4 separate regions of the Homo sapiens genome follow, and regions 2, 3 and 4 are each reported to be linked to region 1. The links are microRNA targets in miRTarBase. Many come from high-throughput screens and were not tested one by one. Region 1 holds a microRNA gene; each other region holds the end of a gene's coding sequence. Distances are from middle to middle.
The links. Region 1 holds the annotated microRNA hsa-miR-3940-5p (GUGGGUUGGGGCGGGCUCUG, at 1,583-1,602, opposite strand). A microRNA usually pairs through its seed, bases 2 to 8, with sites in the 3' UTR of a target mRNA and lowers its output. Matches are read on the target gene's strand: a 7mer-m8 pairs with bases 2 to 8, a 7mer-A1 pairs with bases 2 to 7 and ends in A, and an 8mer does both.

Region 1 (3,000 bases):
CACGACAGCGGCACACAGGAACAAGCAGCCGGCGCAGGGAGGCCTCTTCGTTTAACCTCTGGACCCAGCGAATGCTTCCCTGGCGGTGCGTGGGGACTCCCGGAGACCTCCGGCCACACGGCCCCCGCTGCAGGCATCAAGGGCACACCCCGCAGGGGAAGGGGTTTCCGGCGCTACCCACTAAGGCAGGATGGACGGTGGCCGGGGGTTGGAAGGAGAAAGGAGGAGGAGGAGGGTGGCAATTCCCACTTGCCTGCTGCTGTCCCTGCTGCGTGGGCGGCGGCTGGGGGCCGCCAGGACCTGGGGTCTGTCCGTAGTAAGCGGCCTGCTGTCTGTAATATTCCGCCCAGGCGGCACTGTAGTCTGGCTGGGAGCCTGGGGGAGCTCCTGGACCCCCTCCGGTGGCCACTTGCGCTGTGGGTGGACAAAGGCAGGTGAGAGGCTGTGGGTGAGGGCTGCCCCTGCCCCTGTCCCCGCATGGTGGCCACTCACCTTGCTTCTTGTAGTACTCCTCCCAAGCCTTCGTGTAGTCCTGCTGTGGGGGTGCTCCGGGCTGCTGGGGCTGCTGGCCTGTGCGGGCGCCGAGACAGGTCAGAAACCACTCCCCCGGCAGGGCTGGAGCCCCCCCGCCACCCTGCAGACTCACCGATCTTTTTGTAATACTCTTCCCAGGCCTTAGTGTAGTCCGACTGGCCGGTGGGTGGGGGCTGAGGGGGCTCACCCTGAGCCGGTGGGGCCGCAGGGGCCGGTGCGGGGCCGGGGACGGGGCCCGGGGGCTGCTGGTAGTAGTGTGAGTAGTAGGCGGCCCACGCGGCGTTGGGGTCCGCGGCCGCTGCAGCTGCTTTGCCTGCAGGAGATACCTCGGGTGAGACGGGGGGACAGAACAGGGCCTGCCCTCCGCCAGGTGGCCCATCACTTACTTGGGTCATGAGGAGCAGGCGGCTGCCACTGGGGGTAGGTATTGCCCCAGCCCTGGGGTGGGTACTGGTGAGGAGGGGGCCCCCCGGCACTGCAGGAGAGAAGAAAGGGATGCTTGAGCAGTGGTGCGGGGGTGGCCGCAGCCGGACCACCTGGGGTGGGGATGTTTTTCAGTGGGGAGGCGCCAGAGACCCAGACCACCAGGCTCAACGGGGCGCCTGGGAAAGGCCTAGACAAGAAGCAACTCGAAGGACGCGCAGCGTCAGCTTGAGGACATGAAAGAAGCCGCGAAACTTGCACGTGCACAGAGGGATGCTGAAAGGCACATGCTCTACCAGTAGACAGGAGAGGGCCTGTTGATGGTATCCACAAAAATGGGCTGGATGAGGCCCCCCGCCTGCACTTCTAGGGAAAGGGAAATGGGGTCTGCTATTCTTCTTGCCAGCTCAGTAAGCCCCCGGCCTCAAAACCCAGGAGGCAGAGGATACTCACTGTGGGGGAGCCCCGGGTGGCCCCTGGTTGAAGGGCCCAGGATTGAAGGGCCCCATTGGGCCAGCAGGGCCTGGGCCACCTGGGCCTGGTCCAACTGGGCAGAGAGGACCCTAGAAGGAAGGAGAGTAACCAAGGTAAGTGGGCTGGGATCCGGGCTGTGAGACCAAATCCCCAGAGCCCGCCCCAACCCACCTCGATCTTTTCCTCGATAAGCTGCTTGGCGTGGTCAATCTGCTGGGGTGAACCCCGGATGATGAACAACTTGAAGTTGGGGTCCCCGTTGGGTGGCAGCTGCCGGGAGATCTCTACGAAGGCTCCCGTCTGCTGGTTTATGGCTTTCACATTCTCGCCACCTGCAGAAACGCAGAAGGTGAAGGTGGCCTGCAGTGATGGCCCAGGGAAGAGGGGGCAAGGGATAGGGTGCAGGGGGCCACACTCACCTCGGCCGATGACCAGCCCACACTTGTGAGTGGGGATGGAGAAGGTCATCTCCCCGCCAGGGGGACCCCAATTGCCTTGGCCTCTTCCTCGGCCTCGGCCCCCCGGGGGCATGCCTGGACCCCCTGGAGGACCTGGGGGACCACTCTGCAAGACAAGAGGAGGAGGAGGATGATGAACCCTGGAAGCCGGTCTGGTCTTGCACTCCCCTGGAGGCCCTGCCAGCCCCTTCAGCACCCGGGGCCACCTACCCTGAGGCTCTGGAGGAGGTCGTTGATGATCCGGGCTGCGTGCTCGCACCTGTCTGGGGGCCCCATTATATGAGCAATCTTCTCGGGCCCTGTCCCGTCATCTGAGGCCAGCACCGAGAGAGCAGAGACACAAGTTTAAAAGAAGAGCCCACCCCAGAGCCCTGCAACGCCGCCTCCAGCGCAGACACCACGCCGGCCTGAGATCTCAGACGCGCTGCGCCGCTCCCAGCCTCCACTCGCTCAGGGATTGAGGGGGAGGCGGCCCACATTCCCAGAGAAGGAAACCCACGGCCAAGCCAGGAGGTGGCTCAAGCTTCTTCCAGCACACAGCACCCCCAGCACTGAGAGATTTTACAGAACAATAAATCTCTGAAAAGCCAGAGGGGCCCTTCTCCCCACGGCAGGCAGCTCAGAGACTGCCTGAGGACTGGCAAGAGCCCAGAGCTGAGGTGGAGTGCCCTGATCCAGCCTGCGGGGCACCCAGGGCTGTCCTGTCAGGATAGGCTCCATCGTAGGGGGAGGAAGAGGAGATCTGATAGGGATAGGAACACACGTTCCCCCTGGATGTGGAAAGCCCTCATGTGTCTGTCCCAGAGAAGAGAAGGGACTGGCCATGTTCTGACGGCTGGACTAAGAGCCGTGAGGTGCTATGGAGGCCACCTGGCTGACCACGGTGCCCAGCTCCCTCAGAGCCTGCCTCCCAAAGAGGGTGGGGGTGCACTGGCCAGGGGCAGGGTGGGCCAGGCCCTGACCTTGCTTGAACTGTATCCGCACGCCAGCATCATTCTGGATCTTCTTGATCATCTCTCCACTCCGGCCAATGACCACGCCAACAGAATGCCTGGGCACTGGCACCTGGGGAGGGAGGCAGCAGCGTCAGCTCGGCCCGCAGCTCTGCTGC
Region 2 (3,499 bases), not on the chromosome of region 1:
CTGCCATCTTCCTTTCTAGATCTATGTTAGCGTTCCTGGATCCAAGAAGGTCATCCTTGACCTGCCCCTGGTAATTGGCAGCAGATCAGGTCTAAGCAGCAGAACATCCAGCATGGCCAGCCGAACCAGCTCTGAGATGAGTTGGGTAGATCTGAACATCCCTGATACCCCAGAAGGTGAGCCAGACCTAATGTCTTTTCTTTGTTTCTGGTCTACCTGGGTTTGTAAAATTGTGATGGTCCAGCATTTCTTGGGCAGGATTCTTATGTGGCCATATTTTCTTTTCTAGCTCCTCCCTGCTATATGGATGTCATTCCTGAAGATCACCGATTGGAGAGCCCAACCACTCCTCTGCTAGATGACATGGATGGCTCTCAAGACAGCCCTATCTTTATGTATGCCCCTGAGTTCAAGTTCATGCCACCACCGACTTATACTGAGGTGAGGATTGTCATCTTTACTGTTAAATTTGTCCTAAGCTTTCTATAAGAAGTTGACTTAGACGGATTGCTAAACTGGTTTGTTCTTTTTGTTCTTACCTGAACTGAAATAGTCTGTTTCTTTCTTTAGGTGGATCCCTGCATCCTCAACAACAATGTGCAGTGAGCATGTGGAAGAAAAGAAGCAGCTTTACCTACTTGTTTCTTTTTGTCTCTCTTCCTGGACACTCACTTTTTCAGAGACTCAACAGTCTCTGCAATGGAGTGTGGGTCCACCTTAGCCTCTGACTTCCTAATGTAGGAGGTGGTCAGCAGGCAATCTCCTGGGCCTTAAAGGATGCGGACTCATCCTCAGCCAGCGCCCATGTTGTGATACAGGGGTGTTTGTTGGATGGGTTTAAAAATAACTAGAAAAACTCAGGCCCATCCATTTTCTCAGATCTCCTTGAAAATTGAGGCCTTTTCGATAGTTTCGGGTCAGGTAAAAATGGCCTCCTGGCGTAAGCTTTTCAAGGTTTTTTGGAGGCTTTTTGTAAATTGTGATAGGAACTTTGGACCTTGAACTTACGTATCATGTGGAGAAGAGCCAATTTAACAAACTAGGAAGATGAAAAGGGAAATTGTGGCCAAAACTTTGGGAAAAGGAGGTTCTTAAAATCAGTGTTTCCCCTTTGTGCACTTGTAGAAAAAAAAGAAAAACCTTCTAGAGCTGATTTGATGGACAATGGAGAGAGCTTTCCCTGTGATTATAAAAAAGGAAGCTAGCTGCTCTACGGTCATCTTTGCTTAGAGTATACTTTAACCTGGCTTTTAAAGCAGTAGTAACTGCCCCACCAAAGGTCTTAAAAGCCATTTTTGGAGCCTATTGCACTGTGTTCTCCTACTGCAAATATTTTCATATGGGAGGATGGTTTTCTCTTCATGTAAGTCCTTGGAATTGATTCTAAGGTGATGTTCTTAGCACTTTAATTCCTGTCAAATTTTTTGTTCTCCCCTTCTGCCATCTTAAATGTAAGCTGAAACTGGTCTACTGTGTCTCTAGGGTTAAGCCAAAAGACAAAAAAAATTTTACTACTTTTGAGATTGCCCCAATGTACAGAATTATATAATTCTAACGCTTAAATCATGTGAAAGGGTTGCTGCTGTCAGCCTTGCCCACTGTGACTTCAAACCCAAGGAGGAACTCTTGATCAAGATGCCCAACCCTGTGATCAGAACCTCCAAATACTGCCATGAGAAACTAGAGGGCAGGTCTTCATAAAAGCCCTTTGAACCCCCTTCCTGCCCTGTGTTAGGAGATAGGGATATTGGCCCCTCACTGCAGCTGCCAGCACTTGGTCAGTCACTCTCAGCCATAGCACTTTGTTCACTGTCCTGTGTCAGAGCACTGAGCTCCACCCTTTTCTGAGAGTTATTACAGCCAGAAAGTGTGGGCTGAAGATGGTTGGTTTCATGTTTTTGTATTATGTATCTTTTTGTATGGTAAAGACTATATTTTGTACTTAACCAGATATATTTTTACCCCAGATGGGGATATTCTTTGTAAAAAATGAAAATAAAGTTTTTTTAATGGAAAAAAAAATGTCTGTGAGATGGCTTTGGAAAAGTTTTTGGAAAGAAGGTGTGTCTAAAGGAGTTTTCCTCTACTTAACAATCCACACTAATGAAAACCTTGTGGAGAAAACACTCCCTATGGACCCTAAGGAATGTCGGCAGAGTGGGGGCTAGAAGGTGAAGAGGGAAACCGTTTGAGGCATGTTTCAGATTCACTGAACAACTATACTGGGATTTTCCGGTTGTCTAAACTAGTTTTCCAAATCCATAGGTAATCATTACTAAATTCCTTCAGTTTTGGAGTTCATGGGTTCTTGAAATACAGGGAGATGATGTTTATGAGGGCATTTGAAAGAAAAGAGTGGCGGTTCCTTTTTTTGAGACAGTCTCACTCACCCAGGCTGGAGTGTAGTATGATCTTAGCTCACTGCAGCCTTGATTTCCTGGGCTCAAGTGATCTTCCCATCTCCGCCTCCCACATAGCTGGGCTACAGGCATACACAACTACGTTCAGTTAATTGTGTGTGCGTGTGTGTGTGTGTATGTGTTTGTTTTTTCTACGCTCAGCTAATTTTTTGATTATTTGTAGAGTTCGGGTTTTGCCATGTTGTCCAGGTTGGCCTCAAACTTCTGGGCTCAAGTGATCTGCTGGCCCTGGCCTCCCAAAGAGTTGGGAATACAGGCGTGAGACACCACACTCAGCTGAAGATCCCCTTTTTACAATATGGTTTTATCATAGGGTTTCTTCCCAATGTAAACTTGATTTATATACTAACAAGGATAACTTCAGGACTTAAGAGGTTATAGAGTTATGAGTATTAAATTCTTTGGAGGCAGCTAACCATTTTTTATTTTCACAGTTCCTAACCAAGCACATAACTCAGTAAATGTTTGCTAACTATTCAACTTCACCCTCATCCCTTAGATGATTTGATGGTTCCTATTCCTTGTAGGGTAATAGTAGTAGAGTAATACCACAATCCCATGTTTAATTGGTGTGATTTTCTTTCTTTCTTTCTTTCTTTCTTTTTTTTGAGATAGAGTCTTGCTCTGTCTCCCAGGCTAGAGTGCAGTGGCCCAATCTTGGCTTAATACAATGTCCGCCTCCCAGGTTCAAGCGATTCTGCTACCTCAGACTCTTGAGTAGTTGGGATTACAGGCATGAGCCACCACACTCAGCTAATTTTTGTATTTTTAGTAGAGACGGGGTTTCACCATGTTGGCCAGGCTGGTCTCGAACTCCTGACTTCCCGTGATTCACCCGCCTCAGCCTCCTAAAGTGCTGGGATTACAGGTGTGAGCCATGGCGCCCAGCAGTGATTTTCATTCCTAAAGAACCGACAGGTGGAGAAACCCTGGGATGGCCAATTTAAATATTTGCACAGATCTGGTCCTGGTCCTTATTTGGGAATTGATTTTTCTGAGGACTTCCACAAACTAATTCCAAATAACAGGCTCCTGGAAATTCTACATGAAATCAGTGTGGGGTGTTGTAGCTCTAGCTA
Region 3 (3,499 bases), 39 Mb from region 1:
TTGAGGTCAGGAGTTCAAGACCAGCCTGGCCAACATGGTGAAACCCCGTTTCTACCAAAAACAAAAAATTAACCAGGCATGGTGGCACACACCTGTAATCCCAGCTACTTGGGTGGCTGAGGGGCTGAGGTGGGAGGATCACTTGAACCCCGGAGGCGGAGGTTGCAGTGAGCCAAGATCGTGACACTACACTCCAGCCTGGGAGACAGAGCAAGACTCCTCAAAAAAAATTAAACAAAACAAAACAAAAAAAAGATGAGGGCAGGGAATAGTGAAACCCTTGGACATCCTTTTCTGAAGCACGGAGTGAGCAGCAACTTAAGGAGGTGTGGACTGGGCAAGGTGTGTCATGCCTGTAATCCCAGTGCTTTGGTGCTTTGAGAAGCCAAGGCAGGAGGATCACTTGAGGTCAGGGAGTTTGAGACCAGCCTGGACAACATAGTGAGGCCCCATTTCTCTCTTTTTTTTTTTTTTTTTTTTGAGACAGAGTTTCATTCTTGTTTCCCAGGCTAGAGTTCAATGGCGCAATCTCGGCTCACTGCAACCTCCACCTCCTGGGTTCAAGCGATTCTCCTGCCTCAGCCTCCCAAGTAGCTGGGATTACAGGCATGCACCACCAAGCCCAGCTAATTTTTGCATTTTTTAGTAGAGATGGGGTTTCTCCATGTTGGTCAGGCTGGTCTCGAACTCCTGACCTCAGAAGATCTGCCCACCTGGGCCTCCCAAAGTGGTGGGATTACACGTGTGAGCCACTGCGCCTGGCCGAGACCCCATCTCTAAAAAAAAAAAAAAAATTAACTGGGTGTGGTATCATCCATCTGTGGTCCCAGCTACTTGGGAAGATGAGGTAGGAGGATTGCTTGAGCCCAGGAGTTCGAGGCTGTGGTGAGCGATGATTGCGCCATTATACTCCAGCTTGGGATACAGACTTAGACCTTGTCTCTTAAAAAAACGGGTGGCATGAAGTGTGTAAATGACGTGGGTGACATAGAATGAAAACATCCATTAAGTGGATAAAAAGTTGCCAGAGATACGAAGGGAATGAAAAAAATCAAGGAAACACCCAGAATACCATATATTAATACATGTAAAAAGTCCACTTTAAACTCATTGCAAGGGTTACCAGTGAGATAGAGAGTGTGGGGTTAATTTGGTGGTCACAGAGATCTTTTTTTTTTTTTGTAGAGACAAGGTTTTGCTATGTTGCCCATGCTGGTCTCGAATTCCTGGAATCAAGCTGCCTCGGCCTCCCAAAGTGCTGGGATTACAAGTGTGAGCCACCGCACTTGGGAGGTCTCAAGTCTGTCTTGAAAATGCCAAATTTGGCCGGACCTGGTGGCTGGCTCATGCCTGTAATCCCAACATTTTGGGAGGCCGAGTTGGGTGGATCACCTAAGGTCAGGAGTTCGAGACCAGCCTGACTAACATGGTGAAACCCTGTCTGTAGTAAATACAAAAAGTTAGCCTGGTGTGGTGGCACGTGCCTGTAATCCCAGCTACTTGGGAGGCTGAGGCAGGAGAATCACTTGAACCCAGGAGGCGGAGGTTGCAGTGAGCCGAGATTGCACCATTGCACTCCAGCCTGGGCAACAAGAGTGAAAACTCTGTCTCAAAAAAAAAAAAAAAAAGGGGGGAAATTTTATCCTGCTTCTAAGCCTTCATACTGATTGTTCCCTCTGCCTTAGAACACTCTTTGGGGTATTTGCGGAGCTGACTCTTCTCTGTCAGGTCTCTGCTCAACTGTCCCCTCCTCAGAGACCTTTCCTGATTCCCCTGTTTCAAAAGCCACCTCCCCCACCACGGAAAATTGAGTGGCTGAAGTGTGAGAGGGATAGAGAAAGACTTCATTGTATGCCATCTTGCACTCTTTGCATTTCAAACCAAGTGAATTTATTACCCATTCAAAACTACCTGAATTAAATAAATCAAAATTTTAAAAATTGGAAAAAGTAAAAAACCCGAAGTAGCTCCCCTAGTCATTTTCTCAACACATCCTCCTGTTTTATTTTCTTCGTGACACTTGTCAGTGTGCAAGATGACTTCATTTTTTTAGTATTAATTACAGACTGGGCGGGAGAATGGCATGAACCCGGGAGGCGGAGCTTGCAGTGAGCCGAGAGAGCACCCTTGCACTCCAGCCTGGGTGACAGAGCGAGACTCCGTCTCAAAAAAAAAAAAAAAAAAAAAAATTACAGATTGCATCTTGCTATGTTGCCCAGGCTGGTCTCGAACTCTTGGGCTCAAGTGATCCTCCCACCTCAGACTCCCCCAAGTGCTGAGATTACAGATGTGGACCACTGCGCCTGGCGAGATGACTTTATTTATTGATTCCCTTGTTTGCTGCGTCTCCTGACCAAGAGGTCAGCCCCACAGTGGCAAGGATCTTGGTGGGTCAGCCTGGTTCATGACTGTGAGGCTAAGACCTGGCACACAGCAGGTGCCCTGTAACGTATTTGCTAACAGACTAGGCAAAACATGTCTTCTTGTTTTTTACAAGAAAATGTATTTGGAATCACTTATGTAAATAAAGTTTAATAATCAAAACTCTACTTCCCCTCAAAAACAGATGAGTAATAAGAAGGAAAGAGGTTATTGGACTGGGTTATCTCTCAGAATCTGTTCGGCTCTGAATATTTCAAAAACATTTGGTTGGGTTTTTTTGTTTTTTTTTTTTTTTTTTTTTTTTTTCGATTTGGGCTTTTTTCTTTTTGGTCTGGATGTTGGTGGAATTTCCCCATTCGTAAGACTTTTCTGTGAGAGGGAAGTAAGAGAAGAAGAAATAAGCATTTTGGGTTCCTACATTGGCCTTCCTTCCTTCCGCTGGTACATGTAGTTGGGGAAAGGGTCGGTTTTCTTCTTTAGTTCTGTTGAGGCCCCAGAGAAGCAAAGGATCCCCAAAGGACAACAGCTGTCAGGCCTCCATGTCCAAGGCTGAGCCCAAATGCGTGGGGTTGGACTTCCCAGCCCCATCCTGCCCCTTCTGTAACACAAAATGTGGGAGAAGGTAATGAGAAATTCTGTCTTGTCTCCTGGCACCTCTTCCTTTTCCTTTGAGGGACCACCATATCCCATCTCACAATCCATTAAGGTTTGAATGGAGTGGACCCCAACCCCAAGTGCGACCCCAGCCTGGCCAATCAGACACAGTGACTGGTCAGCATGTGACCTGGTGTGGCCAATGAGAACCAGCCCCCAAAGACCACTGCTGCAACTCCGGGGAAATTGGCAAACTTTCTCCACTGGGGAGGACAGGCTGCTGGGGTGTAAGCCTGGAGCTGCAAGTCTCCGCTACCTTAGGAGGAGACCCTGAAAGGTAATGAAGCCAACTCGGAGAAAATAAAAAGAGACCATTCATGATGACATCATCTGACAACTAGATGCAGCCATGCCTTAAGACTCTAAACTCTTCAATTACATGGCCCAGTAAATTCCCTGTTTTGTTTTCCCAGCTTGAATTGGGCTTCCATCTCTCACGACTCAAAGAAAACTGACAAATACC
Region 4 (3,000 bases), not on the chromosome of region 1:
GGTGATGCTCCCTACTTCAATTTAAGCTTGAGAGCCTGAACTATGTCCTCTGGAGTCTCTGAGGCCCAAAGGTCTATACCAAACACATTACGTACCAGAAAAAAACAAAAGTTGAGACTAGCCAACCAACTGCCTATCTGATAAAGAAGTGTCTACCTAGGGATAACTTACAGTCCCTGGATCTGTGAAAGCACAGCATGCACATTTCATAGAGAACTGACCTATAGTCATACATATATACATACATACACATATATATATATATTTTAGACAGAGTTTTGCTGTCACCCAGGCTGGAGTGCAGTGGCACGATCTCGGCTCACTGCAACCTCCACCCCTTGGGTTCAAGGAATTCTCGTGCCTCAGCCTCCCGAGTAGCTGGGATTACAGGCGCCTGCCACTATGCCCGGCTAATTTTTGTATTTTTAGTACAGACGGGGTTTTGCCATGTTGGCCAGGCTGGTATCAAACTCCTGACCTCAAGCAATCCACCCACCTCAGCCTCCCAAAGTGCTAGGATTACAGGCATGAGCCACTGCGCCAGGCCCCTTATAATCATTTTAATGTGAACTTTGCTAGCTCTAGGACCAATGAAAGTTTAAGTGAGCAAATCCCTATGCTAGAAACCAGGGGCTAAGGAAGAAATAAAAAAGTAGACATCTGGGGAAAGGCATTGCCTCTCAATGGTTCTTTTTTGTTTTTGAGATGGAGTTTCGCTCTTGTTGCCTAGGCTGGAGTGCAATGGTGCAATCTCAGCTCACCACAACCTCTGCCTCCCAGATTCAAGTGATTCTCCCTGCCTCAGCCTCCCGAGTAGCTGGGATTACAGGCATGCGCCACCAAGCCCAGCTAATTTTGTATTTTAGTAGAGATGGGATTTCCCCATGTTGGTCAGGCTGGTCTCGAACTCCTGACTTCAGGTGATCCACCAGCCTCAGCCTCCCGAAGTGCTGGGATTACAGGAGTGGGCCACTGCACCCAGCCTCAATGTTTCTTAATCTTGAGCATGTATCATAATCACATAGGCTTCTTAAAATACAGCTTGCTGGGACCTACACCCAGAAGTTTCTGGTTCAAAAGGTCTGGGATGGAGCCAGAGAACCCTCATTTATTTTTTATTTTTCTGAACCTACGGATTATACTAAAACTTTTATTTCTAGTAAGTCCCCAAGTGATACCAATGCTGCTGGTCCAGGACCACACACTTTAAGAACCACGGGCCTACATTAAGAAAACGGCAGGCAGAGATCCTCAGACACAAGGTCAACTCTCCACTAACACCTTGGTGGAAGAGCAGATGGACAGTCGGGGGAAGAAGAGAAGAAAGTGCTCATATAAAGTCCAATTAGCTAGGGGCAGAGTGGAGTTACTGAAAGGAAGACTTAGTCCTCACGGTCATTCAAAGAACCAGACTGACAATCTTTGCCATCTTCGGTGGCTTCCAAACTTATCCTGGATACGACCGTCCAACCAGCAGCTGGGAGAAGAGAATGGAGGATCATGCAAGAAATGTTTATGGGGCAAGCCTGGATTCCTATGCCCACATTTCACCGCCTACGACTTAGTCATATGTTCTCACAGAGATGCTGGGAGTAGGGAAATGTCCCTGGCTGGATTGCCACATCTTGACAACATATCTTCAAAGAGCAAGAATCTTTGGTAGACACCTAGCAGTCTCTGCCATCAAACCCCTTTCCCATTGTGGACTTAAACAAGTCTGAGCTTAGCTTTAAAGAAAATGTATAGCTAATGACACAGACATCTTAATTACTAAAATTAATGTCTGTAACTTAAAGTGACCAAAGGACTTATTACCTGAGTGACTGGAAAAAAAAACAACAATTTATGGGACTTCCCTGCAAGAGTCCATTCAGGATAGGGAGAAAAGACTGAGCTAGTGGGTTTACAGAAGCAGTCATGAGGAAAAAATGAAGTTTCTATTTTATAACTCTACTGGGCTCCTCTCTATCAACATGTTATGCTACTTTTTGGAGCTTAAGCAAAATTTTTAATGGAATAAGTCTAAAGATTTCATAGTTTTACATGTAGAGAGCTTAATATCCATTTATCTATCATTCTTAAAGCAAATGCTAAATCCCCTTTTCAAAGACGAAAACTTTGCTATTATTGAGGTTATCATCAAAGTTTTACTGCAACTCTAAAACATAGGAATGTCCCATACAACAGCAGCTAACACTTTGCTTTTTAAAGTGATTCTTCTTAGTGCAGGGACACTCATTTGTCTATGCTTGTTATACAGCGAAATTACTGCCTATGACATCTCATAATTGAAAAATTTGGAGTCAAGATTAAAGCTGTTTACATTTTTAGTGAAACTTCTCTTAAGACTGTCCAAAAGAAAATGAACTAATATATGATGCTATTATCAAAAGGAAAAAAAGAAAAAGAAACATCTTTCATGGTCTTTCATTCATCTCATCAATTAGGACACACAAGGCAGCATCTTTCTCTATAATCTGATCTCTCCTATGACCTGAATTTTCTCTTTGATGTTCATTCTGTCCAGTACAATTGTTGCTATCATCAGCATCCATTGGTTCAGTTTTTACTCTCATTCCTGCTTCTGAATGAGGCAAATCATCAGGCAAAGAAGCCAAGCAATTCTGAATCATTTCAATTACTCGTTCCAGGTGCTTTTGAAATCTCTCAGCTGTTTCAAGCCGTTGACGTTTCTGGACCTCCATCATGACTCTCAAGGTCTCTCTTGCTTGGTGGGGTCGGTATTCATTTATAAGATGATGCACGTGTACAAAAAGCAGCTTAAGATCTTCTAGTTTCTCTTCTCGTTTTATACTCCCAGGGCTCCTTATTAAAATATCTAAAAGGTCCAAGAAATTAATAAGGATAGACATATTAAGTTTTCTCAGTTCTTTCTTGTGATCAAACTGCATAGGATGAAGCCGTTCGATGCCCTGACTTTCCAAAGGGCGGATGATAAGATCATCACATTGGAACTGATTGCCAAACATCATGTAACTG

Region 2: miRTarBase lists TXNIP as a target of hsa-miR-3940-5p. Seed matches in the 3' UTR shown: 7mer-A1 at 1,610-1,616.
Region 3: miRTarBase lists PPM1N as a target of hsa-miR-3940-5p. Seed matches in the 3' UTR shown: 7mer-A1 at 2,789-2,795 and 7mer-A1 at 2,650-2,656.
Region 4: the mRNA of MED7 is a reported target of hsa-miR-3940-5p. The part of its 3' UTR that is shown has no 7-base or 8-base seed match.

What each region holds. Positions count from the first base shown.
Region 1 is chr19:6,414,888-6,417,887 of GRCh38, forward strand. MIR3940 (microRNA 3940) reads right to left here and starts at 1,624; the gene lies at 1,523-1,624. It overlaps KHSRP (KH-type splicing regulatory protein), which reads right to left. Exons shown (of 19, transcript NM_001366299.1): 11 at 2,852-2,954; 12 at 2,100-2,200; 13 at 1,851-1,995; 14 at 1,603-1,763; 15 at 1,411-1,520; 16 at 921-1,009; 17 at 647-847; 18 at 493-570; 19 at 1-414. The coding sequence ends at 137.
Region 2 is chr1:145,990,958-145,994,456 of GRCh38, reverse strand. TXNIP (thioredoxin interacting protein) reads left to right here. Exons shown (of 8, transcript NM_006472.6): 6 at 20-176; 7 at 290-441; 8 at 571-2,022. The coding sequence ends at 606. Among named protein-coding and RNA genes, the nearest start is that of TXNIP, 3.9 kb to the left of the region's middle. RefSeq lists an enhancer at 1,670-1,749.
Region 3 is chr19:45,501,498-45,504,996 of GRCh38, reverse strand. PPM1N (protein phosphatase, Mg2+/Mn2+ dependent 1N (putative)) reads right to left here. Exons shown (of 5, transcript NM_001080401.2): 5 at 2,484-2,980. The coding sequence ends at 2,912. It overlaps LOC107985314 (a long non-coding RNA gene), which reads left to right. Exons shown (of 2, transcript XR_007067269.1): 2 at 3,450-3,499. Among named protein-coding and RNA genes, the nearest start is that of VASP, 4.2 kb to the left of the region's middle.
Region 4 is chr5:157,136,313-157,139,312 of GRCh38, forward strand. MED7 (mediator complex subunit 7) reads right to left here. Exons shown (of 2, transcript NM_004270.5): 2 at 1,112-3,000. The coding sequence ends at 2,418. Among named protein-coding and RNA genes, the nearest start is that of MED7, 5.1 kb to the right of the region's middle.